Regions from separate parts of the Homo sapiens genome. Here regions 2, 3, 4 and 5 are each reported to be linked to region 1. Evidence: microRNA targets listed by miRTarBase, many of them from high-throughput screens and not tested one by one. Region 1 holds a microRNA gene; each other region holds the end of a gene's coding sequence.

Region 1 (4,119 bases):
ACTAAAACAACTCCCAAGCACCTCTCAGTACAAATCAAACCAAACGCATAAATTAAAACCAAATCAAAACCAAAGAAGAAAACTCAGATTGGAACCAACAACTAATAATTAAATCATGACAGCCCCCTCCCCCCGAAACAGGAATAAAACATTTGCTGAAACACAAACCACAATTCTAACTTAAAAAAAAAAAAAAACTTCAAGTATGCAACGAAACAACAAGCAGAGGTGCCATGAACACTGAATTGCAAACAATAAAAAATCACACTGTACCCCCAAAATATGTACAATGATTATGTGTCAGTTAAAAATAATAATACAAGCAAACAAAATAAACAAATAAACCTAAAAAGGAAGAACCAACTTTGAAAAATAAATGCACAGAGACTGGAAATGAAAGGACAATTATAAACAAAATAATATCACAAAAAACAAAAACAAAACCAAAATCAGACAGTTACCAATGTCTGGATAAACAATATTACTAAGCAAAAACAATTTGAAAAGTCCCCCCAAACCCAACCACAATATGCACATGAACGAATCAACTAACTAAATTAACTCATTTGTAAAAACCAACACACACATACTCACACACAAACTCACACCTTCTCAAAAATAAGCACAAATTTGAGAACAATTTGCAGTGGTGCCACTGTCACTGCCCCAGACACACATCTAGGGTGGTGAGACTTTCTGCCCAGGAAAACTCTTAGAGCTCATGAAATAGGGAAGAAGATACCATGAGCAGTAGACACTGGTTGTACACAGGCGATAATGTAGTAGTATTAGTGATATAAGAGAAGAATACCCTTCCTCTTGATTACAATCTAAATTTTTGCCAAGATTTGGAACGGAGTGAGACATGTCACTGACTCGAGATGACAACAAAATTCCATAAACTTCAACTTGCCCACTTAAGGTGCTTTATGAGAATTAATCCGGAAGGGGTCACCAGGATGATTACCCTCCAACCCCACTCCACCTCCATTTTTCCAGCACCGTAGTGTGTACAACCTGCTTCCTAGTCACTGCTCCAGTCTGAAGATGTTCTCCAGGGATCCGGCGCTGGCCATCTTTTGTCTGTGATTCTCAAGTTTTCTTTCTGAAGACCTTAGGTTAAGAAGGAGCAACTGAAGGGAAGTGGAAGGGAAAAGACAAATATATATGTTATCATTCTCAATAATCTGAGATGAATACCTTCACTTCTTTTTATTCCTTCATATAATTTTAAAAATAAAATGTTAAATATAATTCAAAGAAAACTAACAAAACAAATATTCTAGGCAACTTCTTAACCTTTTATAGATATGTTGAATTTAGAAAGGACTGATATACACATATTTTCAATAAATATTTTTTAAAATATACATATAAATATTTTTTAAAAATATATACATAAATATTTTATATATATATATATTTTTTTTTTAACCAACAGATAGATAATTTTGGAAATAATGTATTTTTCCAAGTAAGGAAGAACACACAAACTCTTAAGGAAAGGCTTGTCTTCAATCCTGAAAGAGCAAGAGCTTTTTGGTGCAGAGGGATGCTTCTGAGGCAGGAGGGAATTTGAAGAGCCCACTGGGAAATGAAAAGGCTTGGAAGCTAAAAGAAATGTTGTGAGGAAAAATACGTTGGAGGTTTTTCAAGGCAAAATGAATAGTTGGGCTCTGTAGCAGTAGAAGCTCTGAATATAAAAAGAGGAAAAGCCACATCCTCACTACAAATTTTCTTACCTGTGTGGGCATGCCTCCTTTGGACAAGGGTATATAAATCCCCGGAAAGCCTACATGGGTGATTTTTCCTGGGAGCCCTCAGTCCCTAGGATTTGCCTTTCAAGACCTGCCTATGGGAGTCCATTGAGTTAGCCCAGCAAGGGGAGGGTGGTGCTTGGACACAAGGGAGGGCAGCTCTGTGCATGCGGCTGTATACACTCACACCCATGGCCACCAAATATGCGTTACGTGATGTGTATTACTCTACTCCAAAAGGCTACAATCATGTTTTAGTTTACATGAGTGACGCCCTCTGGAGTAGGGCACTACACTCAGCTGAAGGTGGTGGCTCTACCCAAATATATACGTGAAGTTTAGATACGATGAAGAATTTCTAGTATGTTTGCCACTCCATTCCCATTCTCTAACCATCCTTTAGTGAGGATACTCTTACTTGCTGCATATTTCATGTGCTGATTTTGAGGACTTCTTCTCTTCAGTCGGCAACAAATAATCTCACCAACATTTTCCTATGTATTTTCAAGTCATTAGGAATGGCATATTAAAAATGATTTGTGTTCCACCAGTGTTAAAGGTCTCCCCACCCTCTGTGCCCCCAAATTCCTAGTCCCTTGGTTCAGAGTTATTTAACTTTTAACACCAAAACAACAGAGAGAACAAGGTAAACATGCAGAGAATTCAAGCAAAAGAGATAGATCATTTAGGCAGTGCCAGGATTCATAGGACAAAAATCTCATTTTCTCCACCATTCCTGGGGATTATACAGATCATTTACCTTGCCTGGAATCATTTCCAAGAGAGCAATTGGCTTAGAACCTAGTTATATCTTATTCTTCCTTCTCAGCCCTGGACTTTCTCAACATTTCCTAGAGTTCTTGTCAAGAGGGTCTCTTTCAAAATTTTCATTTGGAGACACAGGCCTCCCAGGAATCTATTTTTTCCTTTCAATACTGAGGCTGAAGAAAGGGGGAAGCAAGTAGGAGTAAGAGATCCACAGACCCCAAACTAGTTATATTTTAAGAGCTAGGGAGCCAAGTTAAACAAAAGACTGTAAAGAGAGAGGGAGGTGCACTGAATAAATTAAAGGATTAGCTAAATTACTTGCCATGGAGCAAGAGAAAGGGAGATTATGGTGTGGGACATTTAATCTGGACATGTCCAGGTCTCCCAGCATTCAGGAACCTCCACCAGTGTCAGTAGTCCAAAATGACCCAAGTCTACAGCTACACACCAATAAATCAAAACTCAAACAAAAATATTTCTAAAATCAATTCTACCTCATAAATAAGTGAAACAATGCTCAATATCACTAATTAGGGAAATGCAACCAAAACCACAATGTGATACGACTTCACACCCATTAGAATCAATATTATCAACAAGCAAACAAACAGAAAATAACAAGTGTTGACAAGTGAAGAAATTATAACCCCGTGCATTGCTGGTAGGAAAGTAAAATGGCACAGTCACCACAGAAAACACTATGGTGGTTCTTCAAAAAATTAAAGATATAATTACCATATTTCAGCAATTGCAGTATTGGGTATATACCCAAAAGAACTGAAATCAGTATTTCAAAGGGACATAGTGCCCCCATGTTCAAAGCAGCATTATTTATAATAGACAAAAGGTAGAAGCAATACAAGTGTTCATCAACAGATAAAGTGATATGCAAACTGTGGTATATGCATACAAGGAAATGTTATTTGCCCTACAAAAGGAAATAATTTTCTTTTTAAACTGGGTTTCCTTATGTTGTTCAGGCTAGAATCTAACTCTTGGACTCAAGCGATCTTCCTGCCTCAGCCTCTTGAGTAGCTGGGACTACAGTCATGTGCATACATGTCCAGCTTAGAAATAAAATTCTGACACATGCTATAACATGGATTAACCTTGAAGACAATATGCTGGGTAAAATAAAGCAGTCACAAAGGAATACTACTGTATGATTTTATTCTATTCAGTCCCTGGAATAGGCAAACTAGGAGAGACAGAAAGTAGAATAGAGGTTACCAAGAGCTGGGAATGGGGAGTCAGTGTTTAATGGTTACAGAGGTTTAGTTTGGGATAATGAATCATTTCTGGAGATGGATTGTGGTGATCATTGCACACCACTGTGGATTTACTTAATTCCACTGAATTTTACACTTAAAATGATTAAAATGGTAAATTTTATGTTTATATACATTTTACAATTAAAAAAAAATTAACCTCCAAATAATTCCAAATACCTCTGAAAATATAAGAACCCACCCCCAAAACAGATACCAAAACTAAAACAATCAGTAATAAAGCAAAAAAATACGGCCACGAAGCAAAATAAAACCACTCTAAGTAGATACATGTTGTACAGTGTTAGCAACACTAGTAGATAAAA
Region 2 (4,119 bases), not on the chromosome of region 1:
CTGTGGCATGCCGAGGGGAGGCTGCAGGGGTCACTGGGAAACATCAGGGTCCTTCTTCGGTTGCCTGAGCAGCACCGGTGTCCTCAAGCCACATTCAGCTGCATGGCGCCAATGCTAAGCAGAAAGAGGAATCGGAGGCGCCGAGCTGGGGCAAGGGTGGGAGCCAAGGGAGTGGACACAGCAGGTAGGGCCGGGAGACTTGGGTGAAGCAGTGGAAGCCAGAGTTCTGACCCTGCTGGAGAAGTGTCATGAGGGCCTCAGACAGGTTCACCCACTGAGCAGGAGGTCTTGCAGCCTGACCCACCCTGCATCCTGTTCAGGCCGGGATCATCTCCTTCCTGGGCTTCTTCTGGCCCCTTTCTGCATCTCTTCTTGACAACATGGCACAAATGACCAGGGTTCTTCCCACCTCAGGTCTTTCTGTGGCTTCCTGCTGCCTGCCATCTATGTTAGCCCCACCGACCTTACCCTCCACATCACTGTTTTCCTGTCTGTCACCCGTAAGACTTTCAGTGCCTGGGGCCTTTTCACATGGGAGTCTGCTTTGGAGACTGCTCCCCTTGCCTGCTTAGCCCCCACCATGGGCCCCACCCCAAATCCTCCGGACTTCTGAGAATTTTCAATGTTGAGGGCCCAACCATGTGTTTCTTTCTTGCAGTGGCTCACAGGCCCGGGGCATTCAAAGCTGAGCTGTCCAAGCTGGTGATTGTGGCCAAGGCATCGCGCACTGAGCTGTGACCAGCAGCCCTGTTGCGGGTGGCACCTTCTCATCTCCGGTGAAGCTGAAGGGGCCTGTGTCCCTGAAAGGGCCAGCACATCACTGGTTTTCTAGGAGGGACTCTTAAGTTTTCTACCTGGGCTGACGTTGCCTTGTCCGGAGGGGCTTGCAGGGTGGCTGAAGCCCTGGGGCAGAGAACAGAGGGTCCAGGGCCCTCCTGGCTCCCAACAGCTTCTCAGTTCCCACTTCCTGCTGAGCTCTTCTGGACTCAGGATCGCAGATCCGGGGCACAAAGAGGGTGGGGAACATGGGGGCTATGCTGGGGAAAGCAGCCATGCTCCCCCCGACCTCCAGCCGAGCATCCTTCATGAGCCTGCAGAACTGCTTTCCTATGTTTACCCAGGGGACCTCCTTTCAGATGAACTGGGAAGAGATGAAATGTTTTTTCATATTTAAATAAATAAGAACATTAAAAAGCAACCCCACAGCCTGGGCCCTCCCGGCTGGCCGTTGCGGGTCAGGAGCTCAGACGCGGCTGACACTGCCCCACCGTGGGCGGGTGGGCGGTGTCTCTGGGTGGGACTTCTCTGCAGGCATCAAAGCGCTAGATCCCAAGGTGGCTGTATGTGAACTTGCCCCCTTCCCCCCTTGGCACTCGCTGTCCCTGGGTCCCCCACATGTTGTGAATTCACACCCGGGTTTCTGTGGCTGCCACAGGCCCCAGCGCGGGAGGATGTTCCAAGGCCGACCTGCTCTCTGCAGCCTGGGGCATTGGTTTCCCTTAGTTTGTTTTTCTTTTGAGACAGGGTCTTCTCCTGTCACCCAGGCTGAAGTGTAGTGGTGTAACACGGCTCACTGCAACCTCCACCTCCTGGGCTCAAGCGATCTTGCCACCTCAGCCTTCCAAGTAGCTGGGACTACAGGCACACGCCACCATGCCCGGCTAATTTTTGCATCTTCTTTTGATAGAGACAGCGTTTTGCCATGTTGCTCAGGCTGGTTTCGAACTGAGCTCAAGCAATCCACCTGTCTCGGCCTCCCAAAGTGCTGGGATTACAGGCATGAGCCACTGTGGCCAGCCTCCCGTAGTTTTTTGAAGCTGGGTTGCAACAGTGACTAAAAAACAAAAACAGACCAGACAGGATGGTTTACGCCCGTGAATCCCCGCACTTCGGGAGGCCAAGGTGGGAGAATCTCTTGACACCAGGAGTTCAAGACCAGCTTAGGCAACATAGCAAGACCCCCATCTCTACCAAAAAATAAATAATTTTAAAATTAGCCAGGTGTGGTGGGGCACACCTGTAATCCCAGCCACTCAGGAGCCTGAGGCAGGAGAATCGCCTGAACCCAGGAGTCCAAGGCAGCAGTGAGCCAAGATCGCGCCACTGCAGTCCAGCCTGGGCCACAGAGTGACACCTTGTCTCAAAAGAAAAAGAACCAGCCAGCCTTGACTTCCCAGCACACACTTGATGCCACCACATGAGGAAAGGACTGACGGCCGCACACATCAGCGGGAAGGGCCCCTAGACCAAGAATGGCAGTGCTCTGAGGTCTGAAGACCCCCCCGCCAAGGCCAGGAGGCTTTCCAGCTCTTGACTCTGAGGCTCCACGGGGCCCAGAAGATGAGCACGACAGGGTTGCCAGGGCCTCCTGTGCAGAAAAGGCCGTGGGAAACAGTGCCTACCACCAGTACCCTGGCCAAGGTAGGGGGACTCTCTCCTGGTCAGCTGGGATTCGCCCACAGCTTCTGGATCCCTGGCTGTCATCAAGGATGATGCCCGGGTGGCCTGATGCACCAGCATACATCAGGGCATCTCGGGACACACAGGAGCTTCCCCTCTGACCTTACGTGTGCATATGTGTGCTTTTTTTTTTTTTTTTTGGACAGGATCTTGCTCCATCACCCAGGCTGGAGTGCAGTGGTGCGATCTCGGCTCACCGCAGCCTCAACCTCCTGGGTCCAAGCCATCCTTCCAGATAGCTGGGACCACATGTGCATGCCACCCTGACTGGCTATAATTTTTTATTTTTTTATTCTGTTTCTGAGACCAAGTCTCACTCTGTTGCCCAGGCTGGAATGCAGTGGCACGATCTCATCTCACTGCAACCTCCGCCTCCCAGGTTCAAGTGATTCTCCTGCCTCAGCCTCCCAAGTAGCTGGGATTACAGGCACCCGCCGCCATGCCCAGCTAATTTTTGTACTTTTTAGTACAGATGGGGTCTCACCATCTTGGCCAGGCTGGTCTTGAACTCCTGACCTCAGGTGATCTGCCTGCCTCAGCCTCCCAAAGTGCTGGGATGACAGGCGTGAGCCACTGCACTTGGCCTTATATATATATATTTTTAGAGATAGGGTCTCGCTATGTTGCCCAGGGTGGTCTTGAACTCCTTGGCTCAAGTGATCCTCCTGCCTCGGCCTCCCAAAGCACTAGGTTTAACTGACATGAGCCACTGCGCCCAGGCTGGTGTGTGCTTTTATTTAAATTGTTCCGCAGTCCTATTTGGTTTGTTTCCTTTAATTAAATCTCAAATTTACAAGAGTCCAGACTGTCTGGACAGCCCAACAGGGACACAGAGAGTTTTACACACTGATGTCTCAACAGCACAGGGTTCCATCGGGACTTCGTGAGAAAATCAGGATCCATGTACGTTCTTGAAGAGCTGTCTCTCGGCCTAAGATAAGTGGAGAAGGTTGCCTTGGAAGCGTGGGGTAGAGGTAGGAACAGCTGGCTCTCTGGCCAAGGCCTTTGGCTTTTTCGCGGAAGCAAAAACCGAACCACGGGAAGGCTGCTCCGAGTCTGGGGTCAGAATTTCCTATCAGTGAGTGCAGCAGGCCAGGGAGAGGCGAAAGGGAGTGGAGAGGACTGTGGTGAAAGGGAGAGGGGCGGCCCCTGCACAGCTTCACCAGGCGTCAGTGCAGGCTCAGACGGCCGGACTGGCGAGTTTTCAAGAGAAACTCCAAATCCAGACAGGTGTGTGTGATCTCTTGGTTTTAAATGCAGACAAATTCCAAATGTCTCAAATACTGAATGGAGCCAGCTAGACCTACCTTCTCACCAAGTAAGGCCCACAGGCCCCTGCCGCAACCTCTACCCTCCACAGACAAGGTTCTGCAAAACAGTCATGGGACCTTGTTTCACCTCCCCCACAGGCACCCAAAATAACCTTCCTGACCTGCAGCAGCATTTTGCAATCTTTGAGAACCCCTGCCCCCTGCTGACAAACAAAAATGGCAAATAGACTCCCCCACACCACGCCTCCACGCCCTGAGCTGAGAATCGCCCGCATCTCGTGGGTGGTACCAGAGCCAAGACGACAGCCAAGCTTTGCTTTCTCAGCTCTGTCTTATAAAAGCAACATGGTTGGCTGGTTGGTTGCTGATTCTCCAAATATGAAATCAC
Region 3 (4,119 bases), not on the chromosome of region 1:
CCTTTGGAAAACCTGCTAATGAAAGCTCAGATCTTGGGGACAGCATAGCAATGTAGAAGAGTGTGGGCCGAGAGACCTGTGTATTCTCTTAGCCCCAGCACTTCCTAGACAGATAAACATGGGAGCTTCAGTATGTAGGTAAGGAGTTTCATAAGCTTTGCCGTATTCATACAGCAAATGTATGAAACAATTGCTGTAATATGAACTCTCTCACCTGTTGTGTCTGTTTCTTCTCTCTCATCCACTGAGTAAAATTCCTTCATAAGCGGGGTATCCCTTGAGAAAGCCTAGTGCCTAGAGATAAGTTCATGACCCTTTCTCTTTTCTTTAAAGTGCATTCTAGGTACGTCAGTGAATTCAGTCTTATATTTGCCACTCAAACTTGTTTTGAGTGGTGTGAATACAAAGAACAAAGGTTATTTTTAGAAATTCTAATAATGGAATCTGTTTCAGCCAAGCAGTTAGTAAATGTCAAAAGCTTTCCCCCAAAAAATCTGGACGCTAACTCTTACACAACTGCTCACCAAAACAATTTTTCCTTGAGTCTTTTAAAAGGAGTATGTGCTATTAGGTTTCTGGACATAAAATTCTGTTTATAAACTTTCTAAGATTTGGAATATACTAACTGCTTTAAGATAATAACTGCTGCGAGCTTCCAGAGTTTTCTTAACTTTATCACTTAGGTTGACTGAATTGGCATCTCAGGACTTTCCTGCAAAGTTTATGAACATTCTCACTGTAGTTTTTAGCTTTTTTGCTGCATCATATTTGTTAATCTAATTAATTGTTTAGCTTTATCTTTAGTCCATTTTCTTCACTGGCTACACAACATCTCACTCATTATAATGTGTTGAAGAGGGATTTTTATGGTCCACATAAAATTGTTTGCAAGTATCTTCGGCAATATATTATCTTTGTTTACGATACTCTCACTTTTGGTCAAAATTATTACATCTCCAGGGACAAGATTAAATAGTTTTTCTGGCATGATTCAGGCTTTAGTTTTTGATTTCGTGTTTTCATTCTTTGGTTTACCCCAAAAAACTAATGTTTAGCACACGGTTTAGTTTGTTTTCAAACCTGATAACGTATGACAGTCATTGTATCAGGTTCTACTATTCTTTACATGGCCTCAGGGTGCTTACTGAAACTTAGAATATATTTTACTCCTAATTTAGCTTAAAAATTAATGAATATATCAAATGTAAAAATGATTGGCCAGATCAACAGTAACAGATTATGTAATGTTTATTTATATTCCTTTTGGCTCAAATAAGATGAAAAAATGAATCTTAGCTGAATTTCAAAGATGATGAGCATTTTATACACTAGGGATTGTGATTCCCTATAAGATGAAAAGAGGTTATTTTGATCTCAATTTTCGTTTTGTAATCACCCATTGTCAAATTTACTTTTCAAAGTTTTTTTTTTTAACTATTCTTAAGTTTGAAAACTTTCTAGACCTTAGCCAGTATGTAGAATGCCCAATGCATATGTTGACTGCTGACAAGCTTCAGAGCCATTGTTACTAAAAAATAGAAAAATAGTCTATAATTCGTAAATGAGAGTGTTTTGGAAGACTGCTTTCCTTTTCCAGGACATAAACAACTTTACTTCATGAACTAGATGATAATGCTGTACAGAGCACACAGCTGGAATTCAGTAACCATTGCACTAAAACCATTTTTTAAAGTTAGTATTGAAAACAGGATATTTTCAGGGCACTGACTTCCTAATTAAACAGTTTGAAAGAAAACATTATTTTGTAGCAAAATATATAGATACTGATATTTTGTATCATACTGATTTGTCACCTATACCAGTTAAAAATGTTTTAGTGGGCTTCTGTAGTCCCAGCTACTCGAGAGGCTGAGGCGGGACAATGGCTTGAACCCAGAAGGCAGAGCTTGCAGTGAGCCGAGATCGCACCACTGCACTCCAGCCTGGGCAACAGAGCGAGATTCCGTTTCAAAAAAACAAAAATGTTTTAGTTAAATTAATGTGCTACCTTTACATGCTTATGAGGAATATTTTCTCTTTTCAGGACTAATTATTTTTATACAGTAGTTATGATGTACCAGTATATAATTCTCTGTCAACGAACAAACCACTTATTTGGTTTTATTTATGCAGGCAAAATCTTTGTTTTAGTAAAAGGTATTTTAGGCTGGGCACGGTGGTTCATGCCTGTAATCCCAGCACTTTGAGGCCGACGTCTGTGGATCACTTGAGGTCAGGAGTTCGTGATCAGACTGGCCAACATGGTGAAACCCCATCTGCACTAAAAATACAAAAATTAGCCAGGTGTGCCGGCACGTGCCTATAATCCCAGCTACTCAGGAGGCTGAGGCAGGAGAATCACTTGAATCCGGGAGGCAGAGGTTAGGGGCAGTGAGCTGAGATCACGCCACTGCACTCCAGCCTGGGCAACAGAGCAACACTATCTGAAGAAAAAAAAAAAAAAAGATAAAGGTATTTTAGTGTAATGCCTTTTTGAAAATGAAACAAGCACTTCAATTGTGTGGCTGAAATGTTTCCTTTTAAACATGCATGAGTATTTAAATATTATTTTTAGTTTTTTTTTAAAATGTATTGGATAGGAGCACTTCCACTCACAAAAAGTATTTTAGCTGGCCAGAAAAAGTCAAATATTTGGAAAAGATTATTTTTGAGAAAATATTTAAAGCCATTTTAATATATACTGCAGGATTTTCTACCAACGTAAGATTCTGAATGTTCTCAGAGCACTGAATGACTTTTAATCACAATGCTAAGTAGTCTATCTTACAAGATGTTTCATATTGATTCACTTGGTCATAAATTCAAAAGTATCATGTACTAAAATGTTTATAATCATTAAACATATAAGAGATGAAGCAATAGCATTCTGTTGTCCTCTGACACTCTCTTTCACAGGATCATACTTTTTATCATAGTAATACATATGTGACATCTGGTTAGAGAACAAAAAAGGGCAGAGAAAGATCAGTGTCTTCATGATAGTAGTTTTCGTTCATCATGTAAGATGATAATGGACTGAACTTAGCAGCTTATAATACAATTTTCATTTTATTTTAAACATATTTTGCATGATATAAAAATATTGATCACAGTGAGTTTTACCAATTGTTGTTGCTATAAAAATGAATGCAGAAACAATATTTTTAGTGGAAATAAATTATATAGTCATTCTTTTAAAGAAATCACAAGAGGAAAATCTTGGCTGTTTGGTCATTGGCAGAAAACCAGTCTTTACAAGAGGCCTTTTGCAGATGAGCTCCAGTCCATTTCTGTAAAGTTATCCACATGGTTCAGGAAAGACAGACTTTTGTCTTTGTTAGCATGGACCCACAAGGGTCTCTCTGTTCACAGACAGTTCTACTGTGGCAACACAGTTTTCCATAATAGAAAATCGATGAACTGGAAAACAGTACAATCTTAGCTCATTTGTGGTCTTTTCCAATATGAAGGGACACAACGACACACTTCTTCACTATATGAAAATCCTGGCTCACAAGCCTTCTGGCGGTTCGTACATGGCCGTCTGTAACAGCTAGGAGAACAAACAAGAACACACTTACGTTAAAGATCAAGGCAATGGATTCATCATGCTACCAAGGTATTTCTGTGTTTTTAAATTTCAGACTGGAATAAAATTACTAATTTTATGACGAAATTGTTCATAGGTTTAAAAAAGTTTGTTTCTGCTTAGAATTACAACATTTAAGAGGAATGGAAAAGCCTTAAAATAAAAGTCTTGCTTGCTGATATAACAAATGGAAGGATGAGGTATTGTAAGCATTAGTTCCTTTGAAGTGCTCTTTGCTTCATGGGTGAAAGAAACATAAAACAGAAATTCTGAAAGTGAACACTGAAGGTCTGCTGACTTACTGTGATCACATAAGCATGGCAGAATTCACATGAGTCTGGGACTTGTATGGGACCCAGACTTCCAGGCAATTAAACCCAGCCATGTTGGCAGAACTGTGGTCCTCAGTGAGCAGCCCCACCCTCACTCTTGTGTCTCTACTTGGCAGCTGGCTGCATGACGGTGACTAACTCTTCCTTTCCACCTTGGCTCCAGGTGAAACAGAGGCATTCTGGGGCAGGGAGGTGAGA
Region 4 (4,119 bases), not on the chromosome of region 1:
AGACAGAGTCTCACTCTGTCGCCCAGGCTGGAGTGTAGTAGCATGATCTCGGCTCACTGCAACCTCCACCTCCCGGCCAAAGGACCCCATTCTTGAAGGGCTTTGTTGTGTCTCCAGGCTGAGCTCCTCTGTCAGCATTCTGGGAAGGTGCTCCTTCAGTGACTCAGATCCAGTTAACTCTATGGCCGGTAGATGTGAGAGGCAAGGCTCTCCGGCCAGGATGCAGAGTGCTGGCATGGGCAGCAAGAGACCTGAGGCCAGGAGTTCCACCAGCCTGGCCAACATGGCAAAACCTAAACTAAACCTCAACCTAAACCCGGGCGTGGTGGTGCATGCCTGTAATCCCAGCTACTTGGGAGGCTGAGGTACAAAAATCCTTTGAACCCGGGAAGCAGGGGTTGCAGTGAGCCGAGATCACGCCACTGCACTCCAGCCTGGGCGACACAGAGACTCCGTCTCAAAAAATAAAAAAAGGAACAATCCTAAAAAGTGAGGGTGCCTAAAGCTATGTCCCCGAAGTGCCACTGTCAGTGAGGGCCTTTCCAAGTTTGTGTTCACTCATTTGCAAGCACAAAAAGACATTTTTACAAAAATAGTATCGCACCTTATATGTTGTTCTGCCGTATGCTTTTCTCAACAACATTCTGTGTCATGTAACTCTGCCTCTTCTTTTTCCCTTGTGTGAATGAACCATAATTTATTTTATCAGCCTAGAAGGTGTGTTATTAACAACTCCGTTCTCCTATTTCTCTAGGGGTCCTAGCAGGATGAAGCCATTTAAATACAACCATCCTCAGGGATTCTTCAGCCATCGCTGATCTCCCGCGCAGACCGTTGTTTCCCCCAAGGCCTCACCCTGAGCACTGGGCTTCTGCTTTCTGCTCTGGCCCACATGTGACTCTTGATATTCTCCAAAGACACCAGCCAATTAAAAAGCGTCACCTGACCAGTGGCCTTTGTCTGTGGTTCCTGGCAAGGTGGCTTTGCAGTCTGGAAGGGCAGGTGGGAGCTGTGACACAGTGTGAAAAAGCATTTGTAGAGAGACTTTTTCTCAGCAGCCAATAAAAGCAGAGTGGAAAAAGATTCCAATTCTGCAGAGAGATGCTCACCTCTTGTCTACGCACACCCTATTTGTGCTTTGCGGGGTGAGGTCCTCATGATCTTGTATTTATTATCCCAAGTTCCTGCTGTTAAGAGGTGGTAGGAGAAGCCAAAGGCAGCAGAGCACAAAAAGCAAAACTCTTCCCTCCCCACCCGCTCTTCCCATTAGTCCTGTCAGGGTTGCCGATGGACAAATTGTCTCTGATCGTTGGATGTTATAAATGTCTGACAGTGCAGTGCAAACAGAAGACAAACTCAGTTGATCCTTGAACAACTCAGGGGTTAGGGGCACCAACACCCCCTGCCCTGCACAGTTGAAAAATCCGTGTATAACTTTTGACTCCCTAAAAACTTAACTAATAGCCTGCTGTTGACCAGTAGTATGCTATTAGTAGTTACTTACTGCTAACATAGTCAGTACATATTTTCAGTATATATTTTGTATCTTATACACTGTATTCTTACAATACAGTAAACTAGAGAAAAGAAAATGTTATAAGGAAAGTCACAAGGGGGCCTGAGTGCAGTGGCTCACGTCTGTAATCCCAGCACTTTGGGAGGCCAAGGCGGGTGGATCACTTGAGGTCAGGAGTTTGAGACCAGCCTGGCCGACATGGTGAAACCCTGTCTCTACTAAAAACATGGAAATTAGCCAAGCGTGGTGGCGCATGCCTGTAGTCCCAGTTACTCAGGAGGCTGAGGCAGAATTACTTGAACCCATGAGGCAGAGGTTGCAGTAAGCCAAGATCACGCTCCTGCGCTCCGGCTTGGGCGAGAGTGAGACTCCGTCTCAAAAATAAATAAATAAGAAAGCCATAAGGAAGAAAATATATATCTACTATTAAGTAGAAGTGGATCACCATAAAGGTCTTCACATACTGTCTCAGGGTTGAATAGTCTAAGGAAGAGGAGGGGTTGGTCTTGGTGTCTCAGGGATGGCAGAGGCAGAAAAAGTGGGGGAGGTGGAGGGGGAGGCAGGCACCACTGTTATTTTTATTGAACAAAATCTGTGCAGGGACTCATGACTGTAATCCTAGTACTTTGGAAAGCTAAGGCGGGAGGATCCCTTGAGGCCAGGAGTTCAGGTCCAGCCTGGGCAACGTAGTGAGAGACCCTGTATCTACAAAAAATTTAAAAATCAGCCAGGTGTGGTGGTATGCACCAATAGTCCCAGTTACTCAGAAGGCTGAGGTGGGCGGATGACTGGAGTCCAGGAGTTCAAGGTAGCAGTGAGCTATTCATCGTGCCTGTACTGTACTCCAGCCTGGGAAACAATGCGAGTCCCTATCTCTAAAAAATTTTAAAAAAAGAAATCTGCATATAATAGACCCACAGAGTCCAAACTATTGTTCAGAGATCAACTGTACTTCACAGAGAGTAATTCTAAGTCTTACAGGATTTCATGGAGATGGCGAGAGTGGTGTTGGAGAATCAATCACATACAGAGATACAGGACAGTGAGACCAGGTAACATTTGAGGAGAATATTTTTTTTTTATTGAGACAGGGTCTTGCTCTGTTGTCCAGGCTGGAGTGCAGTGGCACGAACACAGCTCACTGCCGCCTCAACCTCTCCTGGGTTCAAGTGATCCTCCTGCCTCAGCCTCCCAAGTAGCTGGGACCACAGGTGTGTGCCACCATTTCTGGCTAATTTTTAAATTTTTTGTAGAGGCGGGATCCCACTATTTTTCCCAGGCTGGTCTCAAACTCCTGGGCTCAAATGATCCTCCCACCTCGGCCTCCCAAAGTGCTAGGATTATAGGCATGAGCCACCACACCCGGCCTGAGTAGAGTCTTTAAGGTAATGACAAAAGTGCCTCAAAATATAATTATTTGATTAAGAGAAGTCTTGGGAAGATAGGTAACAACCTTTAAAATGTTCATAAAATTACATCCTTTGTAATACTCCTGCAAGTCAAAGTAAAGGATGGCATAGACTATTCTTGGACAGTTTTGTCAAAAAGTGTATCTTGACCCCACCATCAGTACTCCATTCTTCATTTTAAAAAATAAGATGGGCTGGGCACAGTGGCTTACGCCTTTAATATCAGTACTTTGGGAGGCTGGTGGGCGGATCACCTGAGATCAGGAGTTCAAGACCAGCCTGGCCAACATGGTGAAACCCCGTCTCTACTAAAAATACAAAAATTAGCTGGGCATGGTGGTGCGCGCCTGTAATCCCAGCCACTCGGGAGGCTGAGGCAGGAGAATTGCTTGAATCCCCGAGGCGGAGGTTGCACTGAGCCGAGATGGTGCCACTGCACCATCTGGACAACAGAGCAAGACTCCGTCTTGGAAAAAAAAAAAAAGATGTAGAAATGTAAAAATATTTGAGAATTATTACATAGTTGCAGATATAGTTTGCTAACTCCAAGAGGAAACACATTTTATTTTTTGTGATTGTCCTGATGAAACTTTATCCCCCCACAACATGCTGTTAAGCTTGGTTCCCATCATAAGCATATTCCCCCTAAGTGGACTTTTACTGATTTTCCATGGATAATGCAGACCTCCAGTATAAAAGCTATTCCTCCAGGTCTCTCTGCCGACCACTGAGTATCCCAGGGATAAGGATTTTAAGAGTAAGAGCTAAGTAATAAATTCCTGCCCCTAGCAGGGCCGTTCATTTTACGGATGAAAACCTGATCCTTGCTGGGCGTGGTGGCTCATGCCTATAATCCAAGCCATTCAGAAGGCTGAGGCAGGAGGATTGCTTGAGCCCAGGAGTTCAAGACCAGCCTGTGTAATATAGTGAGTCCCCATTCAGAAAAAGAAAAGAAACCTGAGCCTAGCAAGGAGAAGAGAATGGTACCTTTGGTGGCTGTTAAATCACCACCGCTACCCTCAGTCCACATCAGTCCTTTGAATTCCAAAGGCAGGTACTCTCTAGCTCAGAGGTCCTCGAACTTCAGCCTGTGTGGGAGTCACCCATCCTGGCACCTGATTAGAAACACAGACACCCAAGTCCCATTCCAAATATTCTGACTCAATTGACCTGAGATGCACCAAGGAAGTGTAT
Region 5 (4,115 bases), not on the chromosome of region 1:
ATTCCATTCTATCTGTCTGCAGCTTTCTCAGGATCTTCCCACTGCGACAATATCCCTCTCCCCTCATTCCCACCCACATCGCACTTTATCTGTGAGGCCTTTCCTGGCCATCCCAGGGAGGATTAACCTTTTCCTCTTCTACACTCCCTTCACTGCTTCAATCATTAAGTCATAAAAATTTGAGCACCAGGCAACGTGAGGCACCTAGTGAAGACATAAGAGAAATCTGCTCCCTCTTCTCATGGAGTTTCATTTTGTGGGAAAACACATAACAAATACACAGTCAGCATTCTTTGATCGCACTTATCCCATCGTTTTGGAACCAGTTTATATATCTCTTCTGATATTCACGAGATCCTCCAGGCTGTGCATAGAATCTGATTTACATATGGATTCCCAACACCCAGTCACTAGAAATTCACATTATCCATATTACACAATCCAAACTTTGAAATGGATCAAACCAGAATTCCTTCTTCAGTCCCAGTTGCCTGATTCTAACTTTCTTCATCCGGTATTATTTTCTCTCTGTTAACAGGACTTGGTGGCACAAAATACATCTCCTTTGAGGAACGGCAGTGGCATAACGACTGCTTTAACTGTAAGAAGTGCTCCCTCTCACTGGTGGGGCGTGGCTTCCTCACAGAGAGGGACGACATCCTGTGCCCCGACTGTGGGAAAGACATCTGAATTCAACACAGAGAAGTTGCTGCTTGTGATCTCACACACAGATTTTTATGTTTTCTTTCTCACCCAGGCAATCTTGCCTTCTGGTTTCTTCCAGCCACATTGAGACTTTCTTCTAGTGCTTTTCAGTGATACTCACGTTTGCTTAAACCCTTTAGTGCTTTGTGATAGTTCAGTCCCAGGGAAAGAGAAAACTCGCCCTAGGCCCTAGGTGGGAAGATGGTTTGAAATTTTTGTAATCGAGTAAGGCACACCCAAATGTAAAAATCCTTTTGAATGATGCCTTTATAAATCTTTCTCTCACTGTCTATTTAAGTGCAATTAACATATGTCACGAACTTGAAAGTTTTCTAAACTCAATAAGGTAATGACCAGTTGTTATTTACAGCTCTGTAACCTCCCGTTGCGTCAAGTCTAAACCAAGATTATGTGACTTGCAATAAAGTTATTCAGAACAGAATCTTTTGCCAGGCACAGAGTGTGAAATCATGATTACAGGTCGAGGCACTGAGTCTAAGTAACACTTTATTGCATGGTCCCATGGTCACTGTATGAAGTGCAGTTCCAATGTTCCAATGGCCTGGGGCATTGCCAACTGGAACAGCATCACACCCTTTAAAGGAAGCCTTCGGCTGGGCACGGTGGCTCACGCCTGTAATCCCAGCACTTTGGGAGGCCAAGGCGGGTGGATCATGAGGTCAGGAGATCAAGACCATCCTGGCTAACATGGTGAAACCCCGTCTCTACGAAAAATACAAAAAATTAGCCGGGTGTGGTGGTGAGCGCCTGTAGTCCCAGCTACTCGGGAGGCTGAGGCAGGAGAATGGCATGAACCCGGGAGGCAGAGCTTGCAGTGAGCTGAGATGGCACCACTGAACTCCAGCCTGGAAGACAAAGAGACTCCGTCTCAAAAAAAAAAAGCCTTCAGTCAGCACCAGGCACCTCTTCCTTGCTACCTTCTCTCCCTTTTTTTTTTTTTTTTTTGAGACAGAGTCTCGCTCTGTCGCCCAGGCTAAAGTGCAATGGCACAATCTCAGCTCACTGCAACCTCCACTTCCCGCGTTCAAGCGATTCTCCTGCCCTCAGCCTCCTGAGTAGCTGGGATTACAGGCACCCACCATTATGCCCGGCTAATTTTTGTATTTTTAGTAGAGATGGGGTTTCACCATGTTAGGCTGGTCTTGAACTCCTGACCTCAGGTGATCCACCTGCCTCGGTCCCCCAAAGTGCTGGGATTATAGGCATGAGCCACCGCACCCAGCTACCTTCTCTGTCTTTCCCATACTCTTTCTCTTGGAATGTAATCCTCTGCATTTGACACAGTAACATAAACTGACAGTGAAGCCAATTTTCAGGTCATTTTTCTTGGCAGAGCTTATCGGCTCTGTCCCAGTGTTATGGATCCACATCTTACACCGACTTCCATAAAGTGAAAGATTGCACAAGGACATAAGCAACTTGAGGCCAGAGACGACATCCTGTTCATCTTTATGTTCTCAACACCCTCGCAACTGAGGGCACACTGGGAGCCTTCAGTGTTTCTGAAAAGGGCAGTAAAGCAGGAGAGACACACAGTCATTACAGTAAAAATAACATTCTGAGCTACTAGTGTGGCAGTAGTCTGTGGAATAATCTCAGATAGCAGTATACAGTTGGGAAGCACGGAGCCAATGTATGGGATAGAACATTGCACAGTTCTCTTTAGAATGGGAGCATCAGTGACCTTTTTGTCCTTAGTTTTCTAAGACAATGCAATATAATAAAATGATAGGCTGAGCAACAGAAAAATTTGGTGGAAATCAAGTCTGATATATGCTGAGCATATGTGAAATCAGTTTCTTAATCTGAGTGTTAGTCACTGTTAGAATGTTTGATAATGTCTGGAATGAGTCTTTTGGTTTTATAGTTGACTTGAGGTTTTGCTTAAAAAGAATAATTTCATCCTTTGTTAGTTGTTTTGCTGTTTTCTACTTCATAATATAAAAGTAAAAGCACTCCAAATTTCATTTTGGAACATCTTACTTGTTCCTCATTAAAACCATAGACTCTCCCAACCTTAAATTACCCATTCTAAAATTAATGGTTAGGGGGAATTCCACTTCTAGTAAATAGCTCCAATTGGACTAATTCTCCTCCAAATTAACAGTCATTCTGGACAAAATATTTATTTAATTGTTAAGAACACTGGAGCACGATCCAAAGCAGGCAGATATTGGAGGGCAGTAGACACTTGGAAGAAGAGAACGACACTGGGTGATTTTCCTGTTTCGGCCTTTTATCCAATGGCAGGCCCCCGCCAGGGATCTAAAACTCTGTTAGGAAACCTGCAGTCTTACTGGCCTGAGGAACCAGAGGCCAGAGTTCGGGACAAACAGCCTCTGGAAAGTGAGGAAGAAAATCCTGAAAAGGAGAGCCCCAAGTTCGTCGCATGAACTTAGAAATTTCTGGCTGACAACTGAACCGTGTATACTTAGGCCAGACTCCAAGCAGCCCAGCCAAGGCTAAAAGCATTGACTGACAGGACTTTACAGATAGTGGTTTGCAGGGCTTAGCTGACCGACCCTCTTCCTACTGAAGGAAATTACTTGTATATAAACCACACAACACAAAGTCTCTGAAAATTTCCCCAGAAGCATACAACAAATAAACATTCATTCAGGAAAATCCACTACTAAGTCTTAGAAAGAACAGTGAGTCTGTGGCATTTGAGCCACAGCCTCATCCTATCCCATCCCCACTCCCCAGCTTCATGTGACAAACTCTATTCTGGACCAATGCAGCCAAAAATTAAGGGGTCTCTCTTCCTCCAGCTACCAGTCTAGGGCTTTGCCCCAGGTGCGACAGGCTGAGAATCGTAGAGCTCCAATTGCCCCTACCCTAGCCTGCTTAGTGCGGAGGCTCCACATTGGGAGGGGCAATCTGAGAAGACCAGCGGCTATCAACCCACTCACAGAGAAGGGATGTCAGTCCTGGAGAAGCAGGCTGCTGTCCAGCCCCCAGAGGAGATCCAGGCTCTGAGACTGGTAACCCAGCAGTTATGCCCAAGGGGACTGGTATTTGGTACGGAGAACGAGAAATCTTTGCCTAAGGGGATTGTCAAAAACAATAAGACATCTTACCAGTGAGCCATTAAGGAAGGGGCTGGTAACTCCATGCTATTAGTAGCAAAAAGCAAAATGACAGACCAGCCAGAAGTTTAACACAGAAAACCAGAGAAAGAGATAGCCAAGAAGAGCCCTCCTGGAATCTGGTTTATCCTTGAGGTTCGGGAAGTATGTATGGACAGGGCTGTATCCACTCAGGAGCAATCAGATGTGAAACAAACTTGAAAGCATTCTCTAAGGCATACACAGATCCATCAGCAAAGAGCAGAAATCTTATTAGCTCAAAGTGCTTAAGCAGAACCTCTGACCAAACACTGGCTGAAC

What was found. Region 1 holds the annotated microRNA hsa-miR-508-5p (UACUCCAGAGGGCGUCACUCAUG, at 2,020-2,042, opposite strand). A microRNA usually pairs through its seed, bases 2 to 8, with sites in the 3' UTR of a target mRNA and lowers its output. Matches are read on the target gene's strand: a 7mer-m8 pairs with bases 2 to 8, a 7mer-A1 pairs with bases 2 to 7 and ends in A, and an 8mer does both.
Region 2: miRTarBase lists MYDGF as a target of hsa-miR-508-5p. The part of its 3' UTR that is shown has no 7-base or 8-base seed match.
Region 3: miRTarBase lists VEGFC as a target of hsa-miR-508-5p. The part of its 3' UTR that is shown has no 7-base or 8-base seed match.
Region 4: the mRNA of THOC5 is a reported target of hsa-miR-508-5p. Seed matches in the 3' UTR shown: 7mer-m8 at 2,305-2,311 and 7mer-m8 at 2,629-2,635.
Region 5: the mRNA of FHL2 is a reported target of hsa-miR-508-5p. The part of its 3' UTR that is shown has no 7-base or 8-base seed match.

Annotation. Positions count from the first base shown.
Region 1 is chrX:147,234,961-147,239,079 of GRCh38, forward strand. MIR508 (microRNA 508) reads right to left here and starts at 2,067; the gene lies at 1,953-2,067. The region is part of intron 2 of LOC105373347 (periphilin-1); the gene reads left to right.
Region 2 is chr19:4,654,624-4,658,742 of GRCh38, reverse strand. MYDGF (myeloid derived growth factor) reads left to right here. Exons shown (of 6, transcript NM_019107.4): 6 at 659-1,198. The coding sequence ends at 738. TNFAIP8L1 (TNF alpha induced protein 8 like 1) reads right to left here. Exons shown (of 2, transcript NM_152362.3): 2 at 3,175-4,119. Among named protein-coding and RNA genes, the nearest start is that of MYDGF, 14 kb to the left of the region's middle. RefSeq lists a silencer at 3,962-4,011.
Region 3 is chr4:176,680,488-176,684,606 of GRCh38, forward strand. VEGFC (vascular endothelial growth factor C) reads right to left here. Exons shown (of 7, transcript NM_005429.5): 7 at 3,051-3,553. The coding sequence ends at 3,439. The region is part of intron 2 of HAFML (HuR (ELAVL1) associated fibroblast migratory lncRNA); the gene reads left to right. Among named protein-coding and RNA genes, the nearest start is that of HAFML, 28 kb to the left of the region's middle.
Region 4 is chr22:29,505,156-29,509,274 of GRCh38, reverse strand. THOC5 (THO complex subunit 5) reads left to right here. Exons shown (of 20, transcript NM_003678.5): 20 at 755-3,396. The coding sequence ends at 818. Among named protein-coding and RNA genes, the nearest start is that of NEFH, 27 kb to the right of the region's middle.
Region 5 is chr2:105,357,858-105,361,972 of GRCh38, reverse strand. FHL2 (four and a half LIM domains 2) reads left to right here. Exons shown (of 7, transcript NM_001318895.3): 7 at 539-1,147. The coding sequence ends at 690. It also overlaps a transcript of C2orf49 not described here. Among named protein-coding and RNA genes, the nearest start is that of C2orf49, 22 kb to the right of the region's middle.